Linked DNA regions of Homo sapiens. The protein of the gene in region 5 purifies or fractionates together with the protein of the main gene of each other region. This does not show direct contact. Each region holds a gene or a part of one and is shown on either strand. Other genes may lie near its edges. The genes, in order: YBX1, NCBP2, EFTUD2, RSL1D1, DDX21, PRPF8 and STAU1.

The links.
Region 1: the proteins of DDX21 (region 5) and YBX1 purify together in Homo sapiens (co-immunoprecipitation; 4 studies listed by BioGRID and IntAct, with this or other methods). This does not show direct contact.
Region 2: the proteins of DDX21 (region 5) and NCBP2 purify together in Homo sapiens (co-immunoprecipitation; 2 studies listed by BioGRID and IntAct, with this or other methods). This does not show direct contact.
Region 3: the proteins of DDX21 (region 5) and EFTUD2 purify together in Homo sapiens (affinity purification with mass spectrometry; 3 studies listed by BioGRID and IntAct, with this or other methods). This does not show direct contact.
Region 4: the proteins of DDX21 (region 5) and RSL1D1 purify together in Homo sapiens (affinity purification with mass spectrometry; 3 studies listed by BioGRID and IntAct, with this or other methods). This does not show direct contact.
Region 6: the proteins of DDX21 (region 5) and PRPF8 purify together in Homo sapiens (affinity purification with mass spectrometry; 2 studies listed by BioGRID and IntAct, with this or other methods). This does not show direct contact.
Region 7: the proteins of DDX21 (region 5) and STAU1 purify together in Homo sapiens (affinity purification with mass spectrometry; 4 studies listed by BioGRID and IntAct, with this or other methods). This does not show direct contact.

What each region holds. Positions count from the first base shown.
Region 1 is NC_000001.11:42,688,244-42,692,470, forward strand, and holds part of YBX1 (Y-box-binding protein 1), read left to right. Parts: intron 1-4,227. UniProt on the Homo sapiens protein: DNA- and RNA-binding protein involved in various processes, such as translational repression, RNA stabilization, mRNA splicing, DNA repair and transcription regulation.
Region 2 is NC_000003.12:196,934,399-196,937,437, forward strand, and holds the end of NCBP2 (nuclear cap-binding protein subunit 2), read right to left. Parts: intron 2,685-3,039; coding exon 2,613-2,684; 3' UTR 1,008-2,612; downstream 1-1,007. UniProt on the Homo sapiens protein: Component of the cap-binding complex (CBC), which binds co-transcriptionally to the 5' cap of pre-mRNAs and is involved in various processes such as pre-mRNA splicing, translation regulation, nonsense-mediated mRNA decay, RNA-mediated gene silencing (RNAi) by microRNAs (miRNAs) and mRNA export.
Region 3 is NC_000017.11:44,892,660-44,896,886, forward strand, and holds part of EFTUD2 (116 kDa U5 small nuclear ribonucleoprotein component), read right to left. Parts: intron 1,867-4,227; 5' UTR 1,863-1,866; coding exon 1,758-1,862; intron 1-1,757. UniProt on the Homo sapiens protein: Required for pre-mRNA splicing as component of the spliceosome, including pre-catalytic, catalytic and post-catalytic spliceosomal complexes. Component of the U5 snRNP and the U4/U6-U5 tri-snRNP complex, a building block of the spliceosome.
Region 4 is NC_000016.10:11,844,624-11,848,850, forward strand, and holds part of RSL1D1 (ribosomal L1 domain-containing protein 1), read right to left. Parts: intron 3,184-4,227; coding exon 3,045-3,183; intron 2,221-3,044; coding exon 2,072-2,220; intron 1,980-2,071; coding exon 1,878-1,979; intron 1-1,877. UniProt on the Homo sapiens protein: Regulates cellular senescence through inhibition of PTEN translation. Acts as a pro-apoptotic regulator in response to DNA damage.
Region 5 is NC_000010.11:68,969,670-68,973,169, reverse strand, and holds part of DDX21 (nucleolar RNA helicase 2), read right to left. Parts: intron 2,970-3,500; coding exon 2,820-2,969; intron 1,280-2,819; coding exon 1,118-1,279; intron 1-1,117.
Region 6 is NC_000017.11:1,657,114-1,661,340, reverse strand, and holds part of PRPF8 (pre-mRNA-processing-splicing factor 8), read left to right. Parts: coding exon 1-70; intron 71-178; coding exon 179-348; intron 349-513; coding exon 514-643; intron 644-762; coding exon 763-909; intron 910-1,339; coding exon 1,340-1,500; intron 1,501-1,792; coding exon 1,793-1,984; intron 1,985-2,577; coding exon 2,578-2,815; intron 2,816-2,959; coding exon 2,960-3,088; intron 3,089-4,227. UniProt on the Homo sapiens protein: Plays a role in pre-mRNA splicing as core component of precatalytic, catalytic and postcatalytic spliceosomal complexes, both of the predominant U2-type spliceosome and the minor U12-type spliceosome.
Region 7 is NC_000020.11:49,121,839-49,126,065, forward strand, and holds part of STAU1 (double-stranded RNA-binding protein Staufen homolog 1), read right to left. Parts: intron 2,768-4,227; coding exon of another isoform or gene 2,750-2,767; coding exon 2,537-2,749; intron 1,398-2,536; coding exon 1,254-1,397; intron 1-1,253. UniProt on the Homo sapiens protein: Binds double-stranded RNA (regardless of the sequence) and tubulin.

The DNA.
Region 1 (4,227 bases), on a different chromosome or scaffold from region 5:
GATAAATATATTGGAAAAATGTTTGGAGATTTGCAACAACCTGAAAACTTCAGATGAACCACATAGCCAAGAAGTATCCCCCAAAATAAGGAAAAGTTGAGTATGTTGTAGATACTAGTCTGTTTTATTATTTACTACCATAAAATGTACACAAATGCATTAGAAAGTTAATACAGCCATTTGCAGTTGAGAAATGTAAACAAACATAAAGATTCAGGCAGCATTAAATCATAACTGCACGACATTCACTGTAGTAATATTGTACTATTATAATATGTAGCCACTGCCTATTGCTACTGCAGTGAGCCCCTTAAAATGCCATGTGACGCTAATCATCTTCACATGAACAGTTTATCTCTCCAGTAAATTGCATGTCAGTAAAAAGAACTTGTAGTACACAGGTATTGTGGTTTAGTGCAATACTGTAAGTCTTCAATAGCACCATGGGACCCATGCAAAGTGGCGCTAGTGATGCTGAGAAAAGTCATGGCATTGTAAGAAAAAGTTCAGTTGCTCGATATGTGCTATAGATGAGGTCTACAGCTGGAATTACCTTTCAGACAGATGTACACTTACCGTATCGATAAGTGCAGTACTGTACATGTATTTTCTCTTACAACTTTCTTAGCATTTTCTTTTCTGTAGCTTTATTGCAAGAATACAGTATATAATACATATAAGACAGAAAATGTGTTAAGGATTTATGTTACCAGTAAGGCTTTCCAGTCACGAGTAAGCCATTAAATTTTGGAAGAGTCAAAAGTTACAGGCAGATTTCAACTGTGCAGCAGGTTGGCACCTCAAACTTCTATCCACCCTCATAGATACTGAGTTATTCAAGGATACACTGTATTACCTTCCTGTCCCCCTAGTCCTGGGGCTGCAGTTGCTGAGTTTGCTACCCTCCAGTCTTAGCCCTTGGAAACATACAGTTTGTCCGAAGGCAGAATCATAGACAATATGTGGGAAACAGAAGTGAGTCTGTTGGGTGTGAAGGGTGTTTAATAGAGAAGAAATACAAAGATAAGTGGACATTATTATCTTACAGTCATCTACAAGGCTTGGAAATTGGTATCTGGTTGCTTTAGGTTATGGAGCATATAGATGGTAAATCCTGGAGTTTTTATAACCACAGGATTGTAAATTAGTGTATGCAGTTACGTGAATTAAGGTGTTAGACTAGTGTGGTCTGGTGATCTGCAACAAAGTAGTAGTATAAGAGCATTTAGTTACGGATAAATTTATGTATAATAAGTCTTATTTAAGGCAATACTGTGGATTGGCAAAAAAGTTTTCTAAAATTTAGCTTATTTTTTATGTAGATATACAGCTAGGATAAAGATAGTTATGTTTTAAAAGGAGTGGGAGGGGGGTCAAACATGGTGAACATGCTGGAGTAGAGTCCGGGAGTTTGGATGGATTGGGCCATGAAAAGCAAATGCTAGAATTCCTAGTTCCTGTGGCATGGAGAATTATCTGGCAAGCTGTAATTGTCTTTTGACTTACTAAAAAGTTTTCCAGGGAAGTTAAATTTTTTTGCCTTTGTTTTCCCATTTTGAGTTGCATTTTGTCTATTTTTAAGACCCTTACCAATCTGGATAGGCCATAGTATAGGAGTGGTAGCAATTAGATTTTAATTTAGAAATCTGGCTAGTATTAGTGAATAGTAAATGCCCAATAAATACTAAAAAGATTTGAGTACCTACCTTAGTAATGTAAGTTATTAAGTGTTTAGTGTAGTTTTTCTCATTTTGCAGGTAAAAAAGCCAATGAGGCAGCTTTCCTAGGTTACACAGCTGTTAATAGTTGAGTCAAGACTAAAAATCTAGCAGGGCGTGGTGGTGCATACCTGTAATCCCAGCTACTCATGGCTGAAGTGCAAGAACTTGAACCCCGAAGGCAGAGGTTGCAGTGAGCCAAGATCGCTACTGCACTCCAGCCTAGGCAACAAAGTGAGACTCCATCTCAAAAAAAAATTGAGTACTGTTATTTCTTTTTCTTTTCTTTTTTTTTTTTTAAGATCTGCAAAGGGGTTTAATAATGCAAATATCACATATATTTCCATTTTTAACACCATATTTAAGTTTTCCATTTTCTTAACAATAGAAAGTGATAAAAATGTTTTTCCCAATGTAATAATACAAATGGAAAATATTATAGACAGTCATACACTAACCCAATGAATAAGATTCACCAGAAGCAAAATCTATTTTGGGGGTCCTATATTGTTACATATATACAGGGCACCAGAACCACATTTAGACTAATACTTTTTATTTCTAGTTAAAACAATGCAGGGCACTCCTGTGACCTGCAAATCTAATTGTACATATGTATGTGTCAGACTGTGCAGGTGGCCAAGAAGAATAGAAAGAAAGACTTTATCCAGCTTTGGAGTTCAGGGCCTGATTGCCCCAGCTTTAGCCCATAGGAACTTGACAGCTTGTTCATACCTCTCATCTTTAGTCATAGTTTCTCTTTCTCCAACCCCTTTTCTCCCTAACTACCCTGTGCCATTTAGACTGGAAATTCTAACAGGTAGCTTTTTCTTTCTGAATTATCTTTACTACTGTATAATTTTTATTTTCAGAATATTCCTTATTTCTACATCTTGAAGACATTTCTTTCTAGTAGATGGGGGAGCTAGAGCTTACATTCACTGCCGGAAAAGGGTCAGTTCCAGTGTTAATTTCCCAGCAAACACCTGAGAGAAAAACTGAACAGAAAAGAATAGTGATGGCTGGCAGAGAGTGACACCTGCACCCAGAAAGCTGCACTGCAGCTGTCTAATATTTGAGGGTCTCTTTTGTTATAACTGCCAGTTTAAACTAGAGATTCTGGCTGGTTGCAAATTCAAAGCAGATCAATACATTTAAATCACTGGTTCAACAAATCACTCTTTTTAATGGTATAATGTTTTTATTGCAATTGAGGACGTTTTCAGTAAATACCTTGAGCTTGAGGCCCTGGCTAAGTATTCCTTTTGCAATACTGTTTTTACTGTCATGACACTGGTCAGTGAACTGTGTTAGTTTCACATATCTATCTATGTACCCACAAAACACCTCCCTGTCTTTGCAGGAGTGACATTACCCTGTGTGTAATGGCAGCCTTGTGCTTTCTCTGTGCAGAGACAGGGTCTTGCTCTGTTGCGCAGGATGGAGTACAGTGGCATGATTATAGCTCACTGCACCCTCATTTCCGGGACTTGAATGGAGGCCCGGCTAATTTTTTATTTTTTATAGATATAGGGTCTCGCCACGTAACTACTTTTAATTATTTTTATTGCCGGGTATGATGATATTGATATGTGAATACCTGTTGTAACTACATTAGAAGGCATAACAAACAGTCAGAGCCACCACAAAATGGATTGATAAAGAAATGATGTATTACCCAGATACCATGAGTAGCATTATCAGTAATGAAAAATTCTCCACAGAAGCTGCATTTTTAGTGAATTTAATGCGTATTAAAACAGTACAGAAATACATACATGACTCAGATAACAATAAACAAATTTACTTTCTATACCAAATCTTTACATAGTCTTCTAGCAACTAACACCCACCACTTCCATTAATGCAGATAGTGCTCCCTATCTTTGGAAAAAAATTTTATTTTTTTATTTTTTTTGAGATGGAATCTCACTCTGTTGCCCAGGCTGGAGTGCAGCAGCTCACTGTAACCTCCGCCTCCTAGCTTCAAGCAATTCTCCTGCCTCACCCCCCAGAGTAGCTGGGACTATAGGCACACACAGCCACGCCTGGCTAATTTTTTGTAATTTTAGTAGAGACGAGGTTTCACGATGTTGGCCAGGCTGATCTTGAACTCTTGGCCTCCCAAAGTGCTGGGATTGCAGGCGTGAGCCACTGCACCCGGACTGGAAAAACTTTAAATACCCTGCCAGGGGAAGTATTGCCCCTGTTGAAAATCACTATTCTAGACTTTGCCTGTATTTGCCTTTCTTACTCTACCAGTTTTTTATTGTATTTCCCCTTAGAGCCTTAGAGTTTGAAATTCAGTCATATTGGAGAGCAGAACTAATAAATGATGGCTGTAATCTGTTTTTGTGGTGCCTATGGAGTTATGGACAGATGGACATTAGGTACAGCCATCATTTCCCTAGGCAATCCTAATCATCTAGCTTGAAAGGTCAGTTTTCAGTCACTTGCCTTAAGTCGCTTTTACAGTTTACCTGTTCTGTTTTTTTAATTATCCTGTTCC
Region 2 (3,039 bases), on a different chromosome or scaffold from region 5:
TGAATTAGATACACTGATGACCTGCTCTGCCTAGTTAAGAAACTGAATTAATCAGCAGTTACAAAGCACATACTTTGTTACGTGCTAGGCTTTGCCTCCTGGCCTCTAGATAATTAAGACGGCCCAGGGAATACCAGCAGAGAAGTGCTAATTGTATTTGGGTGTTACAAAAGCAGACCTAGACGAGCTGTTCACTTAACTGGTACCTGTTGGTCAGAAAAAGAATTTATTTAGAGATTATGATCATGTAAAATTACAGTACTCAACCCTTCTAGCAAAGTATTTTTTTGAAAAATAAACTAAATGCCTTTATAAACTTGTGTTCTCTCGTCTTGAGTAACATGTACTGTTTGGCGAGGAGTAATTTTTTTCTTGTGACATTCCAGTCACGACAGAGGTCATTTCAGAACAGTGAGCAGTGCAGGCCCTAACCAGCTCACCCTCAGAGCAGCAGCACCATCACTCGAATTTTCTACAACGGAAATGTTCTATATCTTCATCTTAGCTTGACTGAGAAACTGAATGTTTAATTCTCACACTTCACTAACATGTATTAATAGTGATGCCTTCATCTGTACGTTTGAATTTTCACTTTTCTCCGATTAAAGTGAGAAACAGGTCAGATGCTATCCATGAGAAATAGGAAAGAATGGTGCAGTAAAGAGACTCACATTTAGTGTTCTCTAGCCCAGGAAACATAAGATGTTCTTAATCCACCCACAATTTCCCTTCCCTTGCAATCATCCAGAGCATGTTTTTTGGAAAACTAACCTATTCTTCCATCAGTAGAGGTTGCTTGGTGCCTATTTGATCACTTTCACAAGAAAATCTGTGCGCTCTCTTCACACGCAGCAATAGTTATTTCCAACTGTCAGTCAATCAAAATGGACACGCGAATTGTCCACACTATTCATAGAATCCCCCTGGAACTCATTCATGTGTATCCAGAGTACAGGAATTCCAGAACACAACCCTCTTTATAGGCCAGGAAACAGGCAGCAACAACGATAAGTTCATCCAGCTTTATTGAAACCTATTACAGAAGACAATCCGAATAAAACCACTGTCTCCTGTAGAAATCTGAGTTATGTTGTTTTACTACAAAAGAATATAAAACACATTAAATTACAGTGTGAAGGAATTTTAAAAATGAACAGTGTATCCTCATTAAATGTTTGCAAAGTTTCTTCCTAAGCACTTACAACTAGTTACAGCTCTTTTAAAAATTCAGATTTCTACACTCAGTTTAACGGGAGAGACATTCACACTTAGGTACTTCAGCCCCAACTTTCACGGACTATTGGAAATTAGAAGGTACTTTGTTGCTAAGTGAAAAAAATGCACATTTTTTCATATCAGGGAAAATTATACTGGACTTAACAGTTTTAAATGAGCAATAACTCAGATATATTAGAGAGAAATCACCTCTTGCCTTACAAATACCAAATAAATTCCCTAGACTCCCCTCCCTGTAGAGACCATCAGCTCACTGTGAAGGCTTGAGCCTCAGTAGGTAAAATTTGAGGAAAAAAATGAGAAATGGCTAAAAGAGGCATCTGCTGCAGGAACCTTCTGTGACTGTCAAACATTCCCTCTTCAAGCTCCCTTTTAAAACCCAGTCCATTCCCAACATCACTGAAAATGAAAAGAATAAACTTGCTGGTCCTCATGTCAAGGCAGTGTTTTCATTGTCTCTTGATATTTTATCCCATTTCCTATTGACAACATCTCCCCTACCCCTGAAATTATTTAGAGGTTCCCTCTATGACAAACCCTTGCTTTTTTTTAGCTTTAGGTATAACACTGACATCTTTTGAAAAACGTGTTAGTAAATACTCAAGTTCTGGCCTCATTTCCTGATGTATGAAGCATGGAAGCAGTGCTGTCCTGTGGAGATTGCTTTTGCACCAACTACACAGGAAGGTCCTTGACCTCTAAGCATGCCTTTAGAGGTTAGAATTCACAGAAAACAAATTCAATTGTCAAACACCTGTTCCTAATTTTGTGCAAAGCAATACAACATAGCACAACTCCATTTGTTGTTTTTCGTTGTGCTTTGTAGAGACGGGGTCTTGCTATGTTGCCCAGTCTAGTCTCAAACTCCTGGCCTCAAGCTATCCTTCCTCCTCAGCCTCCCAAAGTGTTGGGATTACACGTGTGAGCCACCATGCCTGGCCCCACCTCCATTTATTAGGCTATCTCATGCAAACTTAAAATTAAAAAAATAATCCCAGGCCCCAATGTAGATCATGAACCTACTTAAGACTCATTATGGTAAAAACAAATTCTTACATTTTTCTGTCTTTCTAAAAGTGTAGTGGTTATGGCTAAAGACTAATCAACATTACAGATCCAATCTGTTGTCAAAGAACACAATTTCTGACCTGGTAACAAAATTGTTCTGATAATCTGACACATGGCCAAGATTCTCAGACAAGAATTAAAGGCATTCTTTTGGATTCTGTCCTTTAATAACTTTCAGAGGCTTCCAGCTCAGTAAAGACACTGATCAAATCTTGGTAAAAATGGGCTCGTGTGCAGACTTTAGGTGATGTTCTTCAGCAAATTCAACAGGCCAAAGGAGTGTTTGTCACTGACAGAGCTCTCACCACTCACTGGTTCTGTGCCAGTTTTCCATAGCCTCCTCTCCCAGCATCGTAGTCCTGCCGATACTCATCCCGAACCTTTAATGGAAAGAATCCAGAGTTACAGTATGGAAAAGAATGGTGTAACAAATATGCCTCCCACAAACATGTTAGACAAACAGTGAAACCTGTTCAGATGCCACAATGTGAACATTTCAAGCAGGACATATGCACTTCAGCTCACTTCAGTGCGTTTTGCTTTCATTTTAGATGTTCCTGCAGGTGGAAGATACCTAGCCCTAGCAGAAGTTCAAGAATGGTTGCTTGTTAGAAACGTACAGAACATACCATTTCACGGTTTAAAAAAAAAATTCACCCAAACCGTTGGGTGGTTTTCAGATCCACTTCAAGCCAAGGTTATAGACACAAAGTTATTTACAAAAGAGTAAATACA
Region 3 (4,227 bases), on a different chromosome or scaffold from region 5:
TGGAGTCTCGCTGTGTCACCCAGGCTGGAGAGCAGTGGCTCGATCTCAGCTCACTGCAACGTCTACCTCCCGGGTTCAAGCAATTCTCCTGCCTCAGCCTCCTGAGTAGCTGGGATTACAGGCATGTACCACCACACCCAGCTAATTTTTGTATTTTAGTAGAGACGGGGTTTCACCATGTTGGCCAGGCTGGTCTCAAACTCCTGGGCTCAAGCGCCTCAGCCTCCCAAAATGCTGGAATTACAGGCGTAAGCCACCACACCTGACTGTAAACCTTATTTTCAAAAAGAAAAAAAAATGCTGGTTTATAAGACATCAATAAAAAACTTCAAATGTCTTGCCCAAATCAAGATACATCATGTCCACAGCATGCCCCTGACCTGTGGCTCAACCTAGTAATCCTATCAAGAGAAAATTATTTTTATAAAACTCATGCTAGCTTCCTAAGTACTCAACAGTCATTTTTTTTTTTTTTTGTTTGAGACCGAGTCTCACTCTTGTTGCCCAGGCTGGAGTACAGTGGCACAATCTTGGCTCACTGCAACCTCCGCCTCCCGTGTTCAAGTGATTTTCCTGCCTCGGCCTTCCAAGCAGCTGGGACTACAGGCACGCGCCAACAAGCCTGGCTAATATTTGTATTTTTAGTAGAGACGGGGTTTCACCGTATTGGTCAGGTTAGTCTTGAACTCCTGACCGTGTGATCTGACCACCTTGGCCTCCCAAGGTGCTGGGATTACAGGCATGAGCCACCACGCCCGGGCCCTTTCTATTGCTTTTATGCATCTCTGAAAATCTGAGCTTGTGAGGGAGCTCCCAGTGCAGCTGTAGCTGGAAGAGTTGAGTATCTTTTCCAAGTGGGAATTATTCATGACTGTTAAAAGACACTTCAGGGAAATGGAAGAACTAATGATCAACTAGAGCTCAGATTACAAAACCATCTCATCAATGAAACTACATATTCCCTTTTGGAACCTTAGTAGCGAAGCTTTGCTGGAGCAGTATGAGATCCCACTAAGTCATGTTATAAAAAGGACAATCTCAAGAGACGTACCCAGGGTATCACTGGAACACAGAGGATTCAAAATTTCATTGTTTTTTAAAAAAAGGTGGGGGGGGGGGTGGGGGGGCAGGCATGGTGGCTCATGCCTATAATCCCAGCTCTTTGGGAGGCCAAGGCAGGTGGATTGCTTGAAGTCAGGACTTCAAGACCAGCCTGGACAACATAGTGAAACCCTGTCTCTACTAAAAATACAAAAAACATTAGCCGGGCATGGTGGCACACACCTGTAATCCCAGCTACTCAGGAGGCTGAGGCATTGAGAATTGCTTGGACCTGGGAGGCAGAGGCTGCAGTGAGCCAAGATGGTGCCACTGCGCTCCTGCCTGGGCAACAGGGTGAGACTGTCTCAAAAAAAAAAAAAAGAAAAAAGAGGGGGCTGGGCATGGTGGCTCATGCCTGTAATCCTAGCAGTTTGGGAGGCCAAGGCAGGTGGACTGCTCGAGCTCAGGAGTTCAAGACCAGCCTGGGCAATGTTTCATCTCCACGAAAAATAAAAAAAAATTAGCTGGGCATGGTGGTGCATACCTGTAGTCCCAGCTACTTGGGAGGCCAAGGTGGGAGGATCACTTAAGCCCAGGAGGTGGAGGTTGCAGTGAGCTGAGATTGCGCCACTGCACTCCAACCTGGCAAGAGAGTGAGATCTTGTCTTAAATAAAATAAATAAGAGTGAGATAAAAGAGCAATATATTTGTTTTACCTCATCAAGATCTTTGGTCTCTCTACCCAATTCATCATCATCTTCATCAGAATCAAGCTCTGGTCCAATATAATTCCCAAACTCATCATATAAGTCGGTATCCATGATGCTAAAATTCAAGGAGAGAAGAGTTAGATTCTGACAAGGTAATCAAGGCCTTCATGTGGTGGCTCCACCTGTCTAGTCTTAGTCTTATGGTTGGCCATACCCCTTTCACATGCCTCCTCTCCAGTGACATCAACCTACTGAATGCTCCTCCCAAAGCCCAGTACTTTCCCCAAGTCTCTGCCTTACTTGTCTCTATTTATGTAGTCTTCCCTCCACTTTTCTTGTTTTGGGTTTTAAGGAGCAGAGAGTTGAATAGGCAAGAAGGAAGAAAGAAGACAGAAGGAAGAAGCTCCGCCGTACAGAGATGGGGCGTGGGGGGCGCTCCAAAGCCAAAAGAGGAGGTCCCCCTCCCTCCACTTTTTTAATACTAAATTTAATTTTAAAACAACTCAGTATCAAAAAATGGCAAGAACAGTACAAATAACTTACTTTTTCCTAAATTATTTGAAAGTGAGCTGTTGACACAATGGCTCATCACCTCCTAATACTTTAGTGTAAGGGTGGGCAAACTCTGGCCTGTGGCCAAATCTGGCCCCTCCAGCTGTTTTTACATGGCCCTCAAGCTAAGAATGCTTTTTCACATTTGTAAATTGCCAGGGAAAAAGTCAAAAGAAAAATATTTCATGATACATGAAAATTAATTATAAGGAATTCAAATGTCAGTGTCTATTAAAAAAGTTTCATTGGGAGGCCGGGCGCGGTGGCGCATGCCTGTAATACCAGCACTTTGGGAGGCCAAGGCAGGCAGATGACCTGAGGTCAGGAGTTCGAGACCAGCCTGGCCAACATGGCAAAACGCTGTCTCTACTAAAAATACAAAAATTAGCTGGGTACGGTGGCTCACACCTGTAATCCCAGCTACTCAGGAGGCTGATATAGGAGAATCCCTTGAACCCAGGGGGTGGAGGTTGCAGTGAGGCGAGATGGCACCACTGCACTCCAGCCTGGGAGACAGAACAAGACTCCATCTCAAAAAAAAAAAAAAAAAAAAAGTTTCACTGGAAAACAGCCATGCATATTCATTTGCATCATTTACAGTTGCCTTCACACTGTAATAGCAGAGTTGAATAGTTGAGACTGAAACCATATGGCTCACAAAGCCTAAAATATTATCCAGTCCTTAATAGAAAAAGTTTGCCAACCTCTCCCTCACCATGTGTAATTCCTACAAACAAGAACATTCTCCTACATAACCACAATACAACCATCAAAATCAGAAAATTGATATTCACACATTACTACCACCTTCTTTACAGATCCCATTCAAGTTTCACAGATTGTTCCAATAATACCTTACACACCTAAGGATCCAATCCAGGATCATGTTTGCATTTGGTTGTCATGTCTCTAGTCTCTTTGGATCTACAATCTTCAGTCTTTGGATCTACAATCTTCAGTCTTTCCTTCCAAGGACTGTCATGAAATCCTTAAGGATGTCCCTTGATTTGAGGTTGTCTGATGTTACCTTATGATAATATTCAGGTTATGCGTTTTGGGCAGGAATATCATAGAAGTGATGCTGTGTTCTTCTCAATGCATTTCGTATCAGGTGATACATGATTTCAATTTGCCCCATTAGTGGTAACGTTAACTTTGATCACTTCATTAAGGTGATGTTTGCCAGGCCTCTCCATTGTAAAGTTACTCATTTTCCCTTTGTAATTAAGTAGTGTTTTGTGGGTTTTCTCCACTTCAATTACTGAAATTCTATTCAAAGAAACAGTTCAAATGCCACCACCTCCTTCAAGCTTTCCTAGCTCCTCAATTTCTCATTCCTCTATCCTACTAGAGCTTTTTGCACCTTTATCAGTATTTAATTTTGTCTTAAATAGTAGTTAACTGGCTGGGCACAGTGGCTCATGCCTGTAATCCCAGCACTTTGGCAGGCCAAGATGGGCGGATCATGAGGTCAGGAGATAGAGACCATCCTGGCTAACACAGTGAAACCCCGTCTCTACTAAAAATACAAAAAATTAGCCAGGTGTGGTGGCACACACCTGTAGTCCCAGCTACTCAGCAGGCTGAGGCAGGAGAATCACTTGAATCCAGGAGGCAGAGGTTGCAGTGAGCTGAGATCGCACCACTGCACTTCAGCCTGGCTGACAGAGTGAGACTCCGTCTCGAAAAAAATAAACAAAATAAATAAACAAATAGTAGTTACTAATTACCATCACCAACTATAGTTTATAAGCAATAAATAACAGACTAGAGCATCAGGGCTCTGGAGTTGGAAGACTTAGATTCAAATCCCAACTTTGTCACCAACAACTATGTAACTTGAGGTAAGTTACTTCATCTCTTCCAACCTGATTCCTATTCTTCAACTGGAAAATGGAATGAATAATCCTCACTGAATAAATGG
Region 4 (4,227 bases), on a different chromosome or scaffold from region 5:
GGAGACACTCCCCTGGGGTCAGGCCTCCCTGGTGAGCAGAGGCAAGAAGTCTGTGTTGTTTTCTGCCGACTGTGTCCACTGGGTCTGCACGGCTCCTGGGGAATCTCTGGGTGGAAGGGCAGTGGCCTACAGCTCTGCCTTACTGGCAGCTAGCCATCTCCACACCGCAGTCAGCAAGTGCAGTACTTCATAAAATGTATTTTCAATACATTTAAAACCTGCCCTACCTCCCCAAGCTGATACACTGCCAATAATACAAACTTAAGTCACTTCTCAGCCTAATAAAATAGCCTGAACCGCATCCTTTGCTCAGCCAGAGGTTGGAAGCAATCACTGCCCTAAAACATCTGTTCTAGTAGGTAAGACTAGGTGTGGGGGCTCCGCCTAGCTCAGTATCCAGGGTAAGGTTAAACCAATATGACAACACACACACCAAATAGGCAGATGAACAGGATAAGTGCTGAATTCATTTAATAGGAAGTTAAACCAAGAATGAGGTGGATCTTCACGTTAAGGGGTAATATGGTGCTTTTAAAGGACAATCTGAGGCCAGGTGTGGTGGGTCACGCCTATAATCTCAACACTTTTGGAGGCCAGGACAGGAGGACCGGTTTTGTCTAGGGGTTCAAGTCTAGATGGGGCAAAATAGTGAGACCCCGCCGCTACAAAACATTGAAAAATTAGCCAGGTATGGTGATGTGTGTCTGTAGTCCCAGCTACTCAGGAGGCTGAGGTGGAAGGATTGCTTGAGCCAAGGAGTTGGAGGTTGCAGTGAACTGTGACTGCACCACTGAGTGCAGTGGCACGATAAAGGACAAGCTCAAAGCCTAGAACTAGTCATGTTCTCCAAGCATTCATCTTACTCTCCTTGCTTTTCTTAGTATCTGGAGCTGCCCCGTCCAATGCAGTGACCATCAGCCACTAGCCACATGTGCCTATTTTAAATTAACTAAAAATTCAGCTTCTAACACAGTAGCCACATTTCAAGTGCTCAATAGCTACATACAAATAGTGCCTACTGTATGAGACAGCACAGATGCAGGCCATTTCCATCACAGTAGAAAGTGCTATCAGACAACATTGTTCTAGAGAACTGAACTTTTTTTTTTTTTCATTTAAAGACAGTCTTGCTCTGTCATTCAGACTGGAGAACAGTGACAAGAACATGGCTCACTGCAGTCTTGACCTTCTAGGCTCAAGTGATCCTCCTGCCACAGCCTCCTGTGTAGCTGGGAGCACAGGGATGCACCACCACACCTGACTAATGTTCTTGATTTTTCTGTAATTGGCTGGGGGAGAGGGTCTCATTATGTTGCCCAAGCTGGTCTTGCACTCCTGGGCTCAAGCGATCCTCCTGCCTAGGCCTCCCAAAGTGCTGGGATTACAGGCATAAGCCACTGCACCTGACCCGAGAATTGATCACTTCTGAGGAATAGATTTTAGTTTTAAAAAAGGATCTGGAGCCATTAACAAAATCTTTTTAAAAAGGCCAGGTGCAGTGGCTCACGCCTGTAATCCCAGCACTTTGGGAGGCCAAGGCGGGCGGATCATGAGGTCAGGAGATCGAGATCATCCTGGCTAACTCGGTGAAACCCTGTCTCTACTAAAAATACAAAAAGAAATTAGCCGGGCGTGGTGGCAGGCGCCTGTAGTCCCAGCTACTCGGGAGGCTGAGGCAGGAGAATGGCGTGAACCCAGGAGGCGGAGCTTGCAGTGAGTCGAGATGGTGCCACTGCACTCCAGCCTGGCAGACAGAGTAAGACTCCATCTCAAAAAAAAAAAACAAAAACAAAAAACAAAACAAAACGAATAAGTATATATAAAATCATTGTCAAATACAAGATTAAAAGAGGCACACATGAATGCCTTTTACCTACCTGCAAGAACCACTTTTAGAAATGTTTAAGACTGTTCCACCTATACAGTCATTGATCTCTCTTGATAAATTCTTGGACAGAAGGTTTACAGATACTGGAACTCTACAAAATAAACACACAGGCATTCAGAACACAATGCATACACACCTAGAAGCTTCATGCTGCTAAAGTCCAGTCATTACTAAGAAACTTACTTCTTTCTTTGATAGAAATGTCTCCCAATGAGTGAGGGTAAGAGCCGCCTAATTCTGGCATCAGTAAGGAAGAAATCAAAACTGCTCAGAAGGCGGAGCTTGGCTTCATAGGATTTATATTCCTTCTTTAGAGTTTGGAGGGAGATAATCTAGGAAGTATAGAGAAGAATAAAAACAAGAAGTTAGGAATCTAAACAAGGAGAAGAAATACTTAGGCAACAATTTGGATTTGGATTTAAAAATGTCCTAGAGCCATGCCTCTATACTTTAATGAACACTTGAGGGCCTAAAATGTGCCAGGCACTACGCTACATGCTGGGAACACTGAGACAAATGAGAAAAGACCCCAGCTAAAGCAACTTAGATCTAGGTGGGCAACATATATATATTATTATACATATGTTGCTGTATGTGCTTACGCCTGTAATACTAGCCCTTTGGGAGGCCGAGGTGGGTGGATCACCTGAGCTCAGGAATTCAAGACCAGCCTGGCCAACATGGTGAAACCTCGTCTCTATAAAAATATAAAAATTAGCCGGGCATGATGGCAGGTGCCTGTAATCCCAGCTATTCGGTAGGCTGAGGTGGGAGAATAGCTTGAACCTGGGAGGTGGAGGTTGCAGTGAGCCGAGGTCCTGCCATTGAATTCCAGCCTGGGCGACAGAGCGAGACTCCAAACAAACAAAAAAACTTAGATACCTTAGATCCAGAGGGTAATAAAGACAAGTACACCAACTACAAAACAGCAAATCAGAGAAAAACAAGATGCTGTGGAAGTACAGAGGAATGACACGAGCCACCTCTTTTATAATTTGCAAGATATAAAAGCTACTGATGTACACGCCACCACAAATTAAATTAAAAAGAGAAAAGTAGAAGAAAAATACTAGGAAATATAGCAATGTATTTGTGATACCATTTCGCCTGAATTAAATCCTCTAAATAACTTGAAAATATTAACCAGGCTTCCTACCTGAGAAACGGTTTTAATTCCATGCTTGTTTAAAAGCTTTCTATAAAACTGTTCTGTCTTTTCAGGAGTTGAATTGGGTTCATCCTTCGTAAATAAACAGATATCTTCTGAATCTGATCGAATACTATGAGGCAAGGTCCTACAAAATACGTGAAAAGAAACCGAGGAAAGCATTATTACACACATTATGCATGTTTGTATCACACAGAATACGCGATAAACTTAGTGTTATTTAAATAACTTTTAGTCATGCTAGTTAAGCAAATAATGCACCAAGAACAACACTTAAAAATACATTTCATGGCCGGTAGTAGTGGCTCAAGCCTGTAATCCCACACTTTAGGGAGGCCAAGGCAGATGGATCACCTGAGGTCAGGAGTTCAAGACCAGCCTGGCCAACATGGTGAAACCCTGTTTCTACTAAAATTATAAAAAATTAGCCAGGCACGGTGGTAGGTGCCTGTAATCCCAGCTACTTGAGAGTCTGAGGCAGGATAATCGCTTCAACCCGGAAGGTGGAGGTTGCAGTGAGCCAAGATCGCACCACTGGACTCCAGCCTGGGTAACAAGAGGCAAACTCCGTCTCAAAACACAAAAACAAAAAACAAAACTCACTTTCAATGGCAAGTAAATCACAAAAACACACAGGCCCAAATATCAATTAACACTTGGGATACAACAAGAATTAAAATATACTTAAAGACTTCCAAATGCTTGCATATATAATTATTATACATATGTTGCTGTATGTGCACACGTACTGTAATGCGCTATAAAAACCTAGCTTAATCAGGACAAGCCTGGTTCAGAATTTTACCTTCTTTAAAACTCTTAGCTCCATAAACATAATAACTCTTTCTTCTTTTCCTTTTTTTGAGACAGGGTTTTGCTCAGTACCCAAGGCTGCAGTGCAGTGGTGTGATCATAGCTCACGATAGCCTCCAGCATAGCTGAGACTCCAGGCACGTACCAGTTGGGTGTAGGCCCAGCTAATTTTTGTATTTTTCGTAGAGACAGGGTTTCGCCACATAGCCTGGGCTGGTCTTGAATTTGTGGGCTCAAGCAATCCACCTGCCTCAGCCTCCCAAACTGCTGAGATTACAGTGTGAGCCACCACACTCAGCCAACATAACTTTTTTTTTTTTTTTTGAGATGGGAGTCTCACTGTCGCCCAGGCTGGAGT
Region 5 (3,500 bases):
AGGCTGGAGTGCAGTGGCATGATCTCAGCTCACTGCAACCTCCGCCTACCGGGTTCAAGTGATCTTGCTGTCTCAGCCTCCCAAGTAGCTGGGACAACAGGCACCTGACACCAGGCCTGGCTAATTTTTGTATTTTTAGTATAGACAGGGTTTCACAGAGTTTCACCATATTGGCCAGGCTGGTCTCGAACTCCTGACCTTAAGTGATTCGTTTGCCTCAGCCGCCCAAGGTGCTGGGATTACAGACATGAGCCACCACGCCTGTCAGAATATCCAAGTCTTATCATTTCAATATACTATCTATACAAACCAGGGTACCAATGCAATATTTTGTATTTTTTCGTAAGTCTTCAAAATCCAGACCGCATAATAAAAAGTTAGGCAGTATGTATTTTACACTTGCAGTACACAGATCAATTCAGACCACCTACATTTCAAGTGCTCAACACAGCTAGTGGCTACCATATCAAAAAGTCTAAAGGCTCGTGAAACAATGTTTATACCACACACTCATGGGACTTCCTTTTTAAGAATTGGTGAATTCATAGTCTTCAGTTATTTTTCCCCATTGTTGTAAGCAGCCTTTAACCATGGGGGATTTGCCAATTTGGGTGAGATTTTGGGGTCCTCATGTTGGAAGTGATTGGAATACCTTTGGAACAACCTTTATTTACGTGAAGAACTATCCACATCAAGTAAACTATGATTCAGGGTCCTCCTTGAGAGGTTCCTATAACTCACAAACCTAAGCATCTCTAACCACAGAGGTTAATTACAGGCCCTTTCTCTCCCCTGTCCTCTAGGCTCATGCATTTATCTACCTTACTTACCCCTATCCCATCTCAGTCCTTCCACCCATCTTCAAGGTTTGGCTCAAAAATCACACTATATCCCCAAGTCACCTTTTGAACCTCTGTCTGCTGACTGCACTTCTACTCAAGTGTCAGTTCTGAGGGGGGTGTCTGATAACAGGTTCATTCTCAAAATCACCCTTAGCATCCCAGCACTCAAAAGATAGCTATATACTAATGACATGAAAGTAAATAATACAATTTCCAATTTGTTTTAATACCCAAAAAAAACAAAACAAAATAAAATCTAAGCATAAAGCACATACCTTTGGTGGAGAGCTTTGTATAACCAAATCAACCTCAGGGATGTCTAACCCACGTGCAGCAACATTGGTTGCCACCAAAACTCCAAAACTACCATTTCTAAAACCTTTCAGGGTGATTTCCCTTTGCTTCTGTGGAATGTCTCCATGCAAGGACTGAGCATCCTGCCAATAAATAAACGGATGTAAGAACACCAGTTCCAACAATACAAGTACTTTTTCTCTTCATCAGTTAGGCCTGTAAAAGACATTCATATTTTGGTGACATGCCTGTTGAAAACATTACAAAGGGGAAAATGTGTCTTGAATGGATAAGCCTCAATATTATTTCCAAATCCTCAGTTATCAATTCCAACTGTATCCAACTTTACTTATTGAAGTTGAGAATGAGACAAGAGTGATCAAACCTATTTTATCAGTGTAACCTTAGGTCTGAGCCACCCTTTCCTCATTTGTGTGATGAGATGCCATGACAGATTAAGTGAGTTCTAACATGTACCCTCTGATCATTAGAAAGAAGTGAGGCCAGGTGCAGTAGCTCATGCACTTTGGGAGGCCCAGACAGGCAGACTGCTTGAGGCTGGGGTTTGAGACCAGCCTGGGCAATATGGCAAGACTCGGTCTCTACTAAAAATAGAAAAAAAATTTAAAAAAATAAAATTAGTTGGGGGTGGGTAGGAGAATAGCTAATCCTGCTAATAAATGCTGGGCTTAATACCTAGGTTATGGGATGATCTGTGCAGCAAACCACCTTGGCATACATTTAGCTATGTAACAAACCTGTACATCCTCACATGTACCCCTGAACCTAAAAGTTGAAGATAAAAAAAGTCTTCCCAATTAGATAGTGGTGACTGTGGCACAACCTCATGATTATGCTAAAAGCCACTGAACTGTACACTTTAAAATGATAATATGTGGCACATGAATTATATCAATAATAAAACACCATCCAGAAAAAAAAAGCCAGGTATGGTGGTGCATGCTACCTGGAGGTTGAGGCTACAGTGATCCGAGACCACGCCAATGCACTTCACTTCAGCCTGGGCAAAGGGAGTGAGACCCTGTCTCCAAAAAAAAAAAAAAAAAAAAAAAAAAAATTAGGCTGGGCGCAGTGGCTCATGCCTATAATCCCAGCATTCTGAGTGGCCGAGGCAGGTGGATCACTTGAGGTCAGGAGTTCGAGACCAACCCGGCCAACACGGTGAAACCCCATCTCTACTAAAAATACAAAAATTAGCTGGGCATGCTGGCACGTGCCTGTAATCGCAGCTACTTGGGAGGCTGAGGCAGGAGAACTGCTTGAACCCAAGAAGCGGAGGTTTCAGTGAGCCAAGATCACACCATTGCAGTCCAGCCTGGGCGAAGAAGCGAGACCCCCTCTCAAAAAAATAAAGAAAAAACAAAATTAACCAGGAATGGTGGTGCTCACTTGTAATCCCAGCTACTCGGGAGACTGAGGTGGGAGAATCACTTGAACTCAGGAGGCAGAGAGCCCAGATCACACCACTGCACTCCAGCCTGGGTAACAGAATGAGACTCTGCCTCAATTAAAAAAAAAAAAAAAAAAGTAGCTTCCTCTCATTTCTAAACTAAACTAAACTGGTATTCACTGAATGAATGAAAATCAGACCAAGAGCAGATATGCCCAAGGTGAAGATTTGTTGATATCCCCAGTTTTGCTGGCATAAGGGGAAGGACCAACCTGCTTTATAGCTGAATTCTGGGACAGCTCCTGGGCTTCTTTCTTGGTTTCACAAAAGATGATAGTGCGTCCTTGATGACCACTATATACTCGGATGACATCCCCAATAACTGCTGCCCTCTGAGTCCAGTGGCACTTAATAGCCAGATGCTTATGTAAGAAGAAAAAAAACATCTATTTAGTAAAGCTTTGCTGGAAACTAAAATCACAACACAATGATCAGTGAGCACAACACTAATGTTCTAATGTCTTGCTCCTGGAAACAACTACTCAAGCCTGATAAGAGCTGTCTGCAGCCACCACTGACAGAAAAAAACCTAAATAAGCCAGTAAAGCAGAAAGCAACATGATCTGCCCATCTCCCCATGCCTCTCCCCTTTCTCTAAAGAGCATCTAACTTCTTTATTTTCTGACAACCAGGAAAATGCAGGAAAGGAAATGCCACTCCCTAGCTTTCTACAGGAAACCAAATAACCAACAAATTTCTGTATGTTTTGCCTTTTCATTTACTTAAAAACCCAATCTGTAGTAGATTAATATACAGGTCTGTTCCTCAGTGAAATTAATTCATCTAGATTATCAGAATCAAAGGTGAAATTTTAAACTTCAACACTTTTAAGCTTAAACACAAAGCACTAGATTTCTCTGCTGCCCTCTAATGTTTAAATTTTAAGTGTGATT
Region 6 (4,227 bases), on a different chromosome or scaffold from region 5:
CCAGAAGGACCGGCACACACTGGCTTATGATAAGGGCTGGCGTGTCAGAACTGACTTTAAGCAGTATCAGGTATGTAGAGGGAGCAGATTTTCCCTGAGTCAGGAAAATCCATGGCTATCCCCGAAACTTGGGGCAATAGGCACCCAGAAGCTTGACCGTGCCTGCCTTGCCATCTAGGTTTTGAAGCAGAATCCGTTCTGGTGGACACACCAGCGGCATGATGGGAAGCTCTGGAACCTGAACAACTACCGTACAGACATGATCCAGGCCCTGGGCGGTGTGGAAGGCATTCTGGAACACACACTCTTTAAGGGCACTTACTTCCCTACCTGGGAGGGGCTTTTCTGGTGAGGATTCTCCTCTCTTAGAGGGACCTGTCACAACCCTTTGAGCTCATCTCTTGTATGCCTCTGTGATTTCCTGTGGTGTTTCCCAGACAGCCACCTCCAGGAGGTTAGCAGTGTGCTGGGAAATGGCAGGATATCACCTCACCTGCTTCTCTTGCTCCCCAGGGAGAAGGCCAGTGGCTTTGAGGAATCTATGAAGTGGAAGAAGCTAACTAATGCTCAGCGATCAGGACTGAACCAGATTCCCAATCGTAGATTCACCCTCTGGTGGTCCCCGACCATTAATCGAGCCAATGTGAGTGTGATTGACACTGGAGAGGGGAAGCTAAAGACAGTTGCTGCTTCTTGCCTTGGTTATGTCGTGAGCGCCCGAGTCTCTTGATCTCTAATGTCACATTGTCGTTTTCCTGGCAGGTATATGTAGGCTTTCAGGTGCAGCTAGACCTGACGGGTATCTTCATGCACGGCAAGATCCCCACGCTGAAGATCTCTCTCATCCAGATCTTCCGAGCTCACTTGTGGCAGAAGATCCATGAGAGCATTGTTATGGACTTATGTCAGGTGGGCTGGAATCGAGGGGAGAGGGTACTGTAGAGAGTCAGCTCAGGTGGAATTGAGGGGAGAGGGTACTGTACAGAGTCAGCTCAGGTGGAATCGAGGGGAGAGGGTACTGTACAGAGTCAGCTCAGGTGGAATCGTGGGGAGAGGGTACTGTAGAGAGTCAGCTCAGGTGGAATCGCAGGGAGAGGGTGCTGTACAGAGTCAGCTTAGGTGGAATCGCGGGGAGAGGGTGCTGTACAGAGTCAGCTCAGGTGGAATCGCGGGGAGAGCGTGCTGTACAGAGTCAGCTCAGCTTGCTCTTTTGCATATGGGAAATCCACCCTGGAAGCTCTGAGGATGAGACTCCTATTGCCTCATTATCTTATTGTACAAACTCTGATTTTAATTGGGCTTCCTTAACAAGTCTTAATCTCTCCATGTTTTCCTTCAGGTGTTTGACCAGGAACTTGATGCACTGGAAATTGAGACAGTACAAAAGGAGACAATCCATCCCCGAAAGTCATATAAGATGAACTCTTCCTGTGCAGATATCCTGCTCTTTGCCTCCTATAAGTGGAATGTCTCCCGGCCCTCATTGCTGGCTGACTCCAAGTAAGTGCCTCAGGACCCAGCCCTAGGCAGCCAGGACACTTTCGTTTTCCTGTTCTTCTAGCCCTGCAACTTTAGGAATTGTCCTGTCTGCCTTTGTTTCAAACTTGGAGCCAGTGCTACGCTTGGAGCCTGTCAACACCCTTAGTCAGATCTGCTGATTCTCTGGGGTCCTGCTGACCTGGAACAAGTTGGTGGAGTGGGTGGGATGGTTTTGGGATTTAAGTGGTTCTGGTTCTGGGGACATTGGTTATGCCCATGGTTTCTTAGAAGCTTGAACCCTCTTCATCCTCAGGGATGTGATGGACAGCACCACCACCCAGAAATACTGGATTGACATCCAGTTGCGCTGGGGGGACTATGATTCCCACGACATTGAGCGCTACGCCCGGGCCAAGTTCCTGGACTACACCACCGACAACATGAGTATCTACCCTTCGCCCACAGGTGTACTCATCGCCATTGACCTGGCCTATAACTTGCACAGGTGAGTTGAGGCTCAGGACCATGTATTTTCAGGCCAGGCGCAGTGGCTCACACCTGTAATCCCAGCACTTTGGGAGGCCGCGGTGGGCAGATTGTCTGAGCTCAGGAGTTTGAGACCAGTCTGGGCAACATGGTGAAACCCTGTCTCTACCAAAATACAAAAAATTAGCTGGGCGTGGTGGTCCACGCCTGTAGTCCCAGCTACTCAGAAGGTTGAGGTGGGAGAATTACTTGAACCCGGGAGGCGGAGCTTGCAGTGAACCGAGATTGCGCCACTGCACTCCAGCCTGGGCGACAGAGTGAGACTCCATCTCAAAGAAAAATAATAATAATAATAAATAAATAAATAATCCGTGTATTTTCCATTAGCTCCATACTTTAACGTAGTCATACTTTTTTACTTTACCTAAGTGAGAGGAAGTGGCCCATTCCTCCTATGGGTCACTGATTCTCTTCTCCAGCCTGTATGTACACATGAGCAGAGTGTTGTCAGCCTGGCGAACAGTCTTTCTTCCTCTGTAGAGTTGGCAGCTTGTCTTGTTTCTGGGGCTGTCATTCTCGTCTTAACTTTTCTTGACCCTTTTATCCTCACAGTGCCTATGGAAACTGGTTCCCAGGCAGCAAGCCTCTCATACAACAGGCCATGGCCAAGATCATGAAGGCAAACCCTGCCCTGTATGTGTTACGTGAACGGATCCGCAAGGGGCTACAGCTCTATTCATCTGAACCCACTGAGCCTTATTTGTCTTCTCAGAACTATGGTGAGCTCTTCTCCAACCAGATTATCTGGTTTGTGGATGACACCAACGTCTACAGAGTGACTATTCACAAGGTGAGTGTTAGCAGCAGTGTATAGGTGCGGGACTCTGTACATGGCTGTGGGAGAGTAATGGGCTAAGTGTGTACACATGCTGGGAAGAAGGCAGGATGGGGATGTGTTGTGTAGGCCATGCTAACGAATGCCGTCCTCCTCTAGACCTTTGAAGGGAACTTGACAACCAAGCCCATCAACGGAGCCATCTTCATCTTCAACCCACGCACAGGGCAGCTGTTCCTCAAGATAATCCACACGTCCGTGTGGGCGGGACAGAAGCGTTTGGGGCAGGTGAGCAGGTTTAAAGATGAAGAGGCTGTAGAACCATGTTGCCTCTTATTCTTGGGGTGGACTTGGTAATATTTACTGGTTTATTAGATGAAAGGCTGAGAACATCTCATTTGAACTTATCCCCAAAATACCTTGGGAAGTATTCTGTGGGAGGTCCAAGAGTGTATGAGGTGCTTCGTTCCCTTCCAGCTGGTCTGTTTCCTGAATTTCTAACCTTGAACAGGGCTATCAAAAATCATTTTTCCAAAGGCAACGCATACTCTTTTTTTTTTTTTTTTTTTTTAGCCGGAGTCTCGCTGTGTGGCCCAGGCTGGAGCACAGTGGCTCAATCTCGGTTCACTGCAAGCTCCGCCTCCCGGGTTCACGCCATTCTCCTGCCTTAGCCTCCCGAGTAGCTGGGACTACAGGCGCCCGCCACCACGCCTGGCTAATTTTTTTTGTATTTTTTAGTAGAGACAGGGTTTCAACGTGTTAGCCAGGATGGTCTCGATCTCCTGACTTTGTGATCTGCCTGCCTCTGCCTCTGCCTCCCAAAGTGCTCGGATTACAGGTGTGAGCCACTGCTCCTGGCCAGCAATGCATATTCTCTTTTTTTTTTTTTTTTTTTGAGACGGAGTCTTGCTCTGTTGCCCAGGCTGGAATGCAGTGGCCTGATTTCAGCTCACTGCAAGCTCCGCCTCCCAGGTTCACGCCATTCTCCTGCCTCAGCCTCCCGAGTAGCTGGGACTACAGGTGCCCGCCACCACGCCCGGCTAAATTTTTTGTATTTTTAGTAGAGACGGGGTTTCACCATGTTGGCCAGGATGGTCTCAATCTCCTGACCTCGTGATCCGCCCGCCTTGGCCTCTCAAAGTGCTGGGATTACAGGCTTGAGCCACCGTGCCCGGCCCAGCAACGCATATTCTTGAAACATCCACTTTGACCAAATCTCTTCTCTACCTCACAACTCTTGCTGAATTAACTCTTCTTTAGCTTCCTAGACGTTCAACATCTGGCTGGGCTGTATCTGTCCAGCCAGTTTCTCTTCCTTTACATTTATAGCATGTTTCATCTTACATTCAGTCCAGGATCTTAGTAGCCCAAACCCCTGATGCTCATCTCCAAATCTGTGTTTTGCTTGTATTTTTCTTTCTAGAATG
Region 7 (4,227 bases), on a different chromosome or scaffold from region 5:
CTTACAACCCCCTTCCAAGTTGATTGTAATAACAGGCACCTGGCTGCTAAAACCAAAAGCCCAGGTCACAAGACTCAGAGAGTCAAAGAAACCATTCCCTGGCCTGGGACTAAATTCCAACCTGGCCATCTACCAGCCATTTCATCTTGGGCAAACTACTGATCCTCTCAGCAAACTGCAACTTCCTTTTGTGGAATGAAAGGATCATTCTTTTCCTACCTTCTGACTGCATAGGTAAAATATACGAGGTCAACTTTCTAAGTTATAAATTGCTATACAAGAGATAAGGATTCTGTCTTACATCAGAAAGCACTTAAATTCAAATCACAATTAAGTTAAGCTGCCTATGTGAAATGACCACTTAGCTTTGAACTTAATCAGCTAAGTACAAAGAAATGTTCCATACTAATCTGAAGTGTCACCCAATCTAAGGAAGAGGTAACCCTAGATTCCAGACTCCATAAGAATTAGGAGGAAGAGGAACAGATCTCTTGATACTACTTACAAAATTTACCTTTGGTAAAGAGCAATGTCATAAACCTTCAAGGAGATGTAATGAAGAAAAACTTCTCCCAGCACCCACCACCCCAGGACTCTTTCTTCCAAATTTCAGTGCAACACACCCACATTCCCACCAGTGCACCCAGCAGTAGTGCTGGTGTGCAGACATTACATTCATTTTTTTAAGCATTAAGATAAACAACTTAATCTTTGATATGTAGCCTTTACAGATTTCTGTGGTATGTTTAAGCTATCAAATTATTGCAAGCCACAAGGTCTTAATAAGGATCACAGTTGGCTGGGCGAGGTGGCTCACGCCTGTAATCCCAGCACTTTGGGAGGCTGAGGTGGGAGGATCACAAGGTCAGGAGATCAAAACCATCCTGGCCAACATGGCGAAACTCCGTCTCTGCTAAAAATACAAAAAATTAGCTGGGCATGGTGGCACGTGCCTGTAATCCCAGCTACTCGGGAGGCTGAGGCAGGAGAATCGCTTCAATCAGGGAGTCGGAGGTTGTAGTGAGCTGAGACAGCACCACTGCACTCCAGCCTGGGCGACAGAGTGAGACTCCATCTCAAAAATAAATAAATAAATAAATAAATAAATAAATAAATAAGGATCACAGTCGCTGGCAGAACATGGCCCACAGGATCCAGCCTCCTCAGGAAGGTGTCCAGACCTTGAACCGCCATCAGCCCCCAAGGCTGGACGTGGTCAGAGGAAGGGGCGCCCATCATCCATGCGGACCCACCTGCATCACAAACTCCCTGCGGCGCGGGAGGCCTCGCTCTGTGAGGAGCGTGTACTCTGGCTCCTTCTCCTTTTTTGCCTGCTGGATCTGGGCCAGTCGGCTAATCGGATTGATCCCCTGGCCATATTCTGGGCTTGTCTGTGGCTGAGGAACAAACAAGGCAGAAACTCTGTAATGTTATTCACCGCATGAACTTGGTCAACTCAGAGATCAGGATATGAGAGGAGATAAGAGATTTTGGGTTGACCTAATGGCTCAGAATTCGATTTTTTTTAATTTAACATTTTAACAATGAAAAGATGCTTTATTTTTTTTATGATTGTTCTAGGTGATTTTAAGGTCTTAGCAAACCAACATCAACATTTCACTATAACGAAGCGTCACTATGACTGCGACGGCTGTTTTTTAACATATTTCAACATATGACAGTAAATGGGCAGAAAAAACATAAAACACTATTCCTACAACTCCCCAAAAGTCTGAGCTATGATGGGTTCCCAATTTTCTTGAAAAGAACTCAAAATCCAGGAACCACTTTTTTAAAAAAGCTCAAGCTGATGCCACATGGCAAGAAGAACCTCAGAATCCCAGTTACTTCCTTGAGGCCACCTTTTGTGCCAAGGAACCCTCACTCTGCTGATCAGAAGTGACTTCCAGGCTATATTAAGCAAAAAAGGGAAACAAAAGGTATACATAGTATGCTTTTATGTAAGAAAAATTTGGATCTTGATACAGCATGAAACTACATATACTGAAAATCACAAAGTTCCCCATGGAATTATGTCCCCTTTCTGGGGTTGGGGAAGGGGTCAATATAATGCTTTGATAGATCCATTAGTGTGGCTCAAAAATCCAAAAGAAAAGGCACACAGCAAAATGTCTCACTCCTACCCTCCCACTATGGGCCTCCTGCCTGGCACAAATCTCCTCCACCTTCAGAACAGCAACATGGTCACTGAGACACAGGCACTGTTATTTCACCACGCGCCCCACAGACCGGCATGGCGTTCCTGCCCAATACCCCACTGTGATCGCCAGGGCTGTGATGAGCGCCCTCCTGCACAGATGTGTGTGCCCGTCTGCGGGTACCTCTACTGAACTGACACAATGTCCTTATCTTACCTAACAGGTGGCTCTTGCAGCACCTCTAAGGGGTCTGGCAGGCCTGGGGTGTGGCACGTTGGTCTCATCCCCTTTCACCTTGGGGACAGCGACCAGCCTTCTAAACCCCCCACCCATCTATAAGTAATGAAAACACCTTCTGTGTTCAGAAAAGTTCTCACCTTGACTATGGGTTTTGTTTTCTTTTTGATTCTAGGCTTTACTCGTTCAACTGCAGGCAGGGGCGGTAACTTCTTCAGCTCCTCAAGAACAGCTATGGCGGCATTTTTCTTTGAAATCTTCTTGCTTTTCCCTTCACCTTCCCCCACAAACTCCCCAACCGAAACCTTGGTCACAAAGTTCTTCATGTGGGGTGGGCCACTCTCCCGGGCCACCTGTTTCAGAGGGAAAGACTGAGTGAAAGCGGACAGACACTTATTAAAAGCTCCAAGGCACACTGGCTGGCACACTTCACACAGACACAGGGAAGGGGAACCAAGGACAAGACCTACTAAATGAAAGGAAGCGGGGATCATTTCAAATGCTTTCTCGCCTTTCTTCTTACTTCTCAAACTGGTTTATGCTCTTGAGTCTGGTGAGTCCCAAACAGTCAGGCATGAAATAGGGAGACCTTTTTACTCCCATGCCCCTGGCTCACAGGCTGTCCTGAGTTTAGTGTGGTCCACTGCAACTGGCAAAAAGGAAGCTAGCCCAGCAAAGTCCAGAAATAAATGCAGTACAAATGCTCAAGTTTAGTATCTGCTCTGAGCCTCCAGCCAGGACTAGGCCTACTAAATACTGGTTGCTATGTGGCCACAAAAGAGAACGAGACAAATCTCTTAAGCACTGATAAAGAGGGATTCCCCGCACACATTAAGTAAAAAAAAAAAAAAAAAAAACCCACAAAAGAGTATATGGTATGGTAGCTTTAGTTTAAGAAAAATAGGATTTTATACAAATATCTACACATATATAAACAGACACACATTTATAAGCTCATTTTTGCAAAAAAAAAAAAAAAAAAAAAAAAAACGAAGGATAAAAAAAATCAATGGGCTGGACATGGTGGCTCACACCTGTAATCCCAGCAATTTGGGAGACCAAAGCGGGTGGATCACTTGAGGTCAGGAGTTCAAGACCAGCCTGGCCAACATGGTGAAACCCCCATCTCTACTAAAAATACAAAAATTAGCTAGGGGTGGTGGTGCACACCTGTAATCCCAGCTACTTGGGAGGCTGAGGCACAAAAACCCCTTGAACCTGAGAGACGGAGGTTGCAGTGATCCAAGATCACAAAACTGCACTCCAGCCTAAGCGATAGAGTAAGACCCTGTCTCAAAGGAAAAAAAAAAAAAAAAAAAAGCAAGCAATGGGCCAGGCGCGGTGGCTCACGCCTGTAATCCCAGCACTTTGGGAGGCCGAGGCAGGTGGATCACGAGGTCAGGAGATCGAGACCATCCTGGCTAACATGGTGAAACCCCGTCTCTACTAAAAATACAAAAAAAATTAGCCGGGCGTGGTGGCAGGCGCCTGTAGTCCCAGCTACTCGGGAGGCTGAAGCAGGAGAATGGCGTGAACCTGGGAGGCGGAGCTTGCAGTGAGCTGAGATTGCGCCACTCCAGCCTGGGTGACAGAGTGGGACTCCGTCTCAAAAAGCAAGCAATGAAATTAGTTACCTACAACAGGTGTGAGGGATTAGGGTAGACAGACGGGATGAGACGGGAATGATAGTTTTGACTTCTGGAAGCATTTACTGTTTTACATATTAAAGAAATAAAACTAAGTCAACAAAGATGGGGAAAGAATCTAAAATTAAACATGAACAGAAAGTTAGCTGCATATTAAAGTGATTACAATCTCCAAATGGACCAAA